2 separate regions of the Homo sapiens genome follow, and region 1 is linked to region 2. The links come from fine-mapping of genetic effects on gene expression. A gene starts in region 2. The other region holds a variant in brackets. All regions are shown on one strand. Distances are from middle to middle.

Region 1 (2,908 bases), 45 kb before region 2:
AGTCTTGTCCTGTGGCACATCCTTGCACAAGGCTCTGTGCTCTTTAGGGATCAAACATCTATCCTATTATAGCACTTAGCTCTCTGTTTCAAGTTTCCATTTTCATATCACTATTCCCCCAACCAGGCTGTGATATACTCAAGGGCAGAGTCTGGGTCTGGTTAATCTTTGTGTGTCCTTCCCCTTGTGGGTTTAAAGCTAATTTAGAATGCAGGAATCAGATGAGAACCAAAACATAAGCTTTATTGCTGGTAAACATCATAGTAGAATATTGGCTGGGACTCTGGAACAGAATGGGCTTTTTTTTTCCTGCAGTTTTTCAAACATACAGCAATGAGAGAGTTTTACAGTGAACATTCATACACCCAACACCTAGATTCTACTAATAACATTTTATTATACTTGCTTAATCATATCTGTCCAAAATGAGCTTTTTAAAACACCCTCCTTCTTGCCAGACCAGGGGTCCACAGGCGGGAAAAACTGTGTTTGCATTATGGACACTTAGCCAGCTGGCCAGGATCTTAAGAGTTTAAGTTCATGGGAGCATAATCTTTAATACCTTAATCCTGCCCTGATGGCACAGTAGATCTTAAGCTAGTATCTTGCCTGCTAGATAAAACCTTCCTTGGGTGAGGAGGGCCAGTTAGGGAAATGCTTTCTCCCTAATGTTTCTAAAAGCGCTGATGTTCCTGTTTTAAGATTCAGAACAGGAGGTGTGGGGGGAATGATTTCCCAATACCCAGCACAGAGCTTGGCACAAAGTTGGCATCTGGGAATGTTTGTTGAATGGATGAAAACCACAGAAATTAACATTACATGATCCCAGCCATTTAGGCACTCACAGATTATAGGAAACACAAATAACTACATCTAATACCAAAATGACCTATTAGCAGTTGAGCATTCCTAATACAAAAGTCCAAAATCCGAAATGCCCAATGAGCATCTGCTTTGAGCATCATGTTGGTGCTCAAAAGTTTTGGATATGGGGATATTTCAGATTTCAAATTTTTAATTACAGATACTCAACCAGTATTTGTTTTTTTGTTTGTTTTTGAGATGGAGTCTCGCTCTGTCACCCAGGCTGGAGTGCAGTGGTGCAATCCCAGCTCACTGCAACCTCTGCCTCCTGAGTTAAGTGATTCT[C/T]CTGCCTCAGCCTCCCAAGTACCTGGGACTACAGGTACGCACCACAATGCCTGGCTAATTTTGTATTTTTAGTAGACATGAGGTTTCACCATGTTGGCCAGGCTGGTCTCGAACTCGTGACCTCAAGTGATCCACCTGCCTCGGCATCCCAAAGTGCTGGGATTACAGGCGTGCCCAGCCTCAACCTGTATTGGAAGGCTGCACAGGAGAGGTAGCATTTGAACTGGGCCTTGAGTGATGAAAAAGCCTTCTTCAAACCAATAGCCTAAACACTAGGGTGGGGTGCCAGTGAGGTTTGTGGGTTTTGTTTTGTTTTTTTTGAGACATAGTCTTGCTCTGTCACCCAGGCTGCAGTGCAGTGGTATGATCCCAGCTCACTGCAACCTCCACCTCCTGGGTTTAAGCGATTCTTCTGCCTCAGCTTCCTGAGTAGTTGGGATTACAGGTGTGTGCCACCATGCCTGGCTAATTTTTGTATTTTTAGTAGAGACAGGGTTTCACCATGTTGGCCAGGCTGGTCTCAAACTCCCAACCTTAGGTGATCTGCCCACCTCGGCCTCCCAAAGTGCTGGGATTACAGGTGTGAGCCAACGTGCCCAGCCACCAGTGAAGTATTGTATAGCACTTTCACCATTCGCCTCTCATGCCCAAGAGCCTAGGTGTCTCCCTGGCCTGTGACATTCAACTCTGCCTCTGGCAACTGTTTATTTTTATTTTTGAGATAGGGTCTTGCTGTCGCCCAAGCTAGAGTACAGTGGCATGATCATGGCTCACTGCCACCTTAACCTGCTGAGCTTAAGTGATCCTCCCATCTCAACCTCCTGAATAGCTGGGACTACGGGTATACACCACCATGCCCAGCTAATTTTAAAATACTTTTGTATTGGTAGTAAGGCCAGGCGCAGTGGCTCATGCCTGTAATCTCAGCACTTTGGGAGCCAAGACGGGCGGATCACTTGTCAGGAATTTGAGGCCAGCCTGGCCAACAGGGTGAAACCTCATCTCTACTAAAAATACAAAAAAATTAGCCGGGCGTGGTGGCGCGCACCTGTAATCCCAGCTACTTGGGAGGCCAAGGCAGGAGAATCACTTGAACCCGGGAGGTGGAGGTTGCAGTGAGCCAAGATCATGCCAGTGCACTCCAGCCTGGGTGACAGAGCAAGACTCCATCTCAAAAAATAAATAAATAAAAAATAAAATACTTTCGTAGAGATGATATCTCACTATGTTGTCCAGGCTGGTCTTGACCTCCTGGGCTCAAGCAATCCTCTGGCTTTGGCCTCACAAAGTGCTAGGATTACAGGTGTGAGTCACTGCACCTGGCCTTGTTTTAATTGTAGTAAACTATATATAACATACAATTTAGTATTTTAATCATTTTAAGTATATGGGTCAGTGGCATTAAGTACATTCACATTGTTGTGCAACTTTCACCATCATCCATCTCTAGATCTTTTCATCTTCCCAAACTGAAACTCTGTACCCATTAAACAATTCCCCAGTCCCCTCCCCCAGCCCCTGGCATCTACCATTTTACTTGCTATCTCTATGAATTTGACTACTGTAGGGACCTCATGTAAGTGGAATCCTGTATTTGTCTCTCTGGTAGTTTTTGACTGTCTGTCCTCAACAGTCCCTGGGAAGGGGAACCCAACCTGAGAAGCTCATGACTCCCCCTGTAGAAGGTGCTGGGCCTACCCTGCTTATGGGAGGGTATTGCTGAGGAGCCTGTCTTAGCCTCACAGTGACTGCCCTATAA
Region 2 (2,908 bases):
CCATTACCTTTCCTTGATCACTTGTACCATCATCTGTAATTTATTTTTATGTTTAATACGGGTGTGGGATTTCTGATTTTTTTTTTTGCTAGACTGGAAGCTCTCAGAGGGCAGGAACCATTTGTTTCCCTGCCACAGAGATGTTCAATAAATATTGTCAATTGAATGTGCAAATAATCTCACTTAACCACAGCTATGAGGGATGCTATTTTATCCCCATTTTAGAGATGACTAAACTGAGGCTTAGAACAATTAACCCAAGGTCACAGTGAATTAGTGGATCCATGTGTCTGCCTCCACACAGCCTGTGTGTTCTTAATTATTGATCACTAAGCAACAGCTGCCTCTCACAAACTGGCAGGAAACTTCAACTTTTCCCTTTTATCAATATATTGTGAACGCCTTTTCTTGCTAATAAATATACATTTGTGTGCGTAATTTTTAATGATCCCATGGTATTCCATCGTGTGGATGTAATTTACATATTCATTTCCTTATTCTCACTTCTTCCTAGTTACAGCACTTCTTTAAGCACTTGTAATTTTTATTCCTTTGGATAAATTCCTAGAAGTTTACAACACGACCAGCTGCAAGATGGGGCAGTGAGGTGCTTGAAGGAGTGGGTGGGCTGCACTTCAGAATCCCGGTGGAACTTTTTCAAAAAACTCGTGCCCGGGGCCCCCCTCTCAGGAGGCCGTCGGTGGGCCTGGGCACTGGCGTGGTTTTCAGGTCCTCAGTGGTTCCGAGGTGCCAGAGATTGAGGACCACTGGAGTAAGCGCGAGGTCACGGCGGGTGCAAAGCAGAAGACGTAAAATCCTGACCGCCCTGGGACAATCTGCAACCTTGTCAAGCCTCCGTGCCCGCCTTTGTAAGGAGGCTGGGAGAAGCGGGACTTGGATGACCCGGACTCCCGTCCCGAGCGCTGGGGTCCAGGTTTGACTCCGCTGGCTTTCTCAGGCGGGCAGGGCGGGGGTAGGCAGCTGGGAAGATGACGTAATGTGCTCCCAGCCAGGCCTGGAGGCGGCCAGCGGTCGCAGGTGGAGGGTGGCCTGTTAACCCTTCACTCCCAGGCCAGTGGACGGACTTGCGTGTGGCGCAGATCCAACGGAGAAGGCAGCGGCTCCTTTAAACAAGGCGGAGAAGGTTAAGATGATGACCGGACGGCTACTCCAGGCATTCGCTCCGAGGCCGCGGGGGGAGGGACCTCACTATGCAAATCTGAGCTGCTGATCGATGACGCGCCATCACCCCACGCACCGCTTCGCTCGCCCATTGGCTGAGATGAGCCTGGTCCCATTGACAACAAACAGGGGGGCGCGCGGCCTGGAGGCGGGGCCGCAGGGGGCGCGGGCTGGGGCGGGGGAATCCCGCCCCGCCCTTTCTGTGCGGCGCCCGGGCGCAACGCAAACATGGCGGCGGGTGGCACCCGTCGGTGAGGCGGTGCCGGGCGGGGGTTGTCGGGTGTCATGGGCGGTGGCGACGGCACCGCCCCCGCGTCTCCCTGAGCGGGACGGCAGGGGGGGCTTCTGCGCTGAGCCGGGCGATGGACGACAGCGGCGAGCTGGGTGGTCTGGAGACCATGGAGACCCTCACGGAGCTGGGCGACGAGCTGACCCTGGGAGACATCGACGGTGAGTGGTGGGTGGGTGGGAGTGCGGGGGCCGCGCGGGGAGGAAGGGGTTACGGCGGCGCGCCCGGGTGCGCGTGCGCCCACCCCCCGACAGCCCCGGTTCGCGCGGGAAGAACCCCGTGCGCACGGTGCCCCCGGCGGTCCTCAACCCTTCCGGCGCTGCGAGCGTGAGCCCGACCCAGCTGCGCCGCTCCGGGAGGCCGTGGGATCTGGGGCGCCGCGGGGCCGAAAGCGGCGCGAGGGTCGCGGGTTCCAGAGCGCGGGGCTAGGGACGTCGCGGGGGCGTCTCAGGGAGCGGCCTAAGGAGAGCGCGTGGCCGCCGCCTCCCTCGCGCGCCCACACGCGGTTTCCGTGGTCCGCTCTCCCGCCGCCCGCGACCGCGCGTCGCACCTGTCACTCCCTTCCTGGCCGCGGGGACGTCTTTGGGATTCCCGGGGCCCAGCCCCCAGTCTCCGCGCCCCGAATCCCTGGGCTTCTCAGGATTGACCGACGGCCAGGTCGCCGGGTGCTCCGCGAAACTTTGGGCAGCGACTGCAGAAGCAAGTTGCTGATGAAGAGAGCAGTGGCGGCGGAGTGTGGACACATCTCTCCGGGATGGAGACCCGGGCGCTCCTGCTGTCACGCTGCAAGGGGAATTGAGCAGAAGAAATTTTGAGTTGTGGCCCCTCGGGTACGGGCTGGGGAGCGGGTGGCCTTTGTTCCAGCGCCTTAACAGCGGAGTGGAAGAGCTGGTAGGAGCCCAGGGATCCACTCTTAAAATACTAATTTTGCGACCACGGGAACAACGATTTGGAGAGGGTCAGCGGCTTGCTCAAGGTCACCCAGCTGGTTAGAGCCTAGTTCTTGCAGTTCCTTGGCCAGTATTGGTTTTTTTATACCCCTCCTTTCAAGAAAGAGTCCAGTTGACTAGGCTAGTAATCTTATTAACTGGATAGTTGCACTCTTATGTTTAGGCCCCAAAATGCTTTGTATTATTTCACTTCTTCCTCACAACAATCCTGTGAGATACTCTTATTACCTCTATTTTAATACGGTAATTAAAGAAGCCGAGGCCAGGAGATGTTGACTTATCTAAGGCCACTCACCTTAGAGAGCTTAGGCAGAAACACAGGTGCATTGTACTTTTCAGTTTTCAGAATGCTTTCATGTCCAGGATCTCACTACAGCCTTGCAGGCATGTATGATGGCTACATCCCCGTTGTGCAGATGAAGAAGCAGAAGCAGCAGAAGATTCTCTTTTGGGGGAAGAGATAAATGCAGCAGCTAATTGAAAAGGA

The links. PIP is the estimated chance that this variant, and not a neighbour inherited with it, causes the effect.
Region 1: its variant is the best candidate, but not a certain one, in a credible set for the expression of SREBF2 in fibroblasts (GTEx, PIP 0.64).

What each region holds. Positions count from the first base shown.
Region 1 is chr22:41,786,990-41,789,897 of GRCh38, forward strand. The region is part of intron 26 of MEI1 (meiotic double-stranded break formation protein 1); the gene reads left to right. Among named protein-coding and RNA genes, the nearest start is that of CCDC134, 12 kb to the right of the region's middle. The variant C/T (reference allele first, on the strand shown) is at 1,150.
Region 2 is chr22:41,831,727-41,834,634 of GRCh38, forward strand. SREBF2 (sterol regulatory element binding transcription factor 2) reads left to right here and starts at 1,379. Exons shown (of 19, transcript NM_004599.4): 1 at 1,379-1,632. The coding sequence starts at 1,545. CCDC134 (coiled-coil domain containing 134) reads left to right here. Exons shown (of 7, transcript NM_024821.5): 7 at 1-438. It overlaps SREBF2-AS1 (SREBF2 antisense RNA 1), which reads right to left. Exons shown (of 2, transcript NR_157279.2): 1 at 2,717-2,908; 2 at 1-2,254. RefSeq lists enhancers at 733-1,242, 848-1,504 and silencers at 1,283-1,622, 1,683-2,072.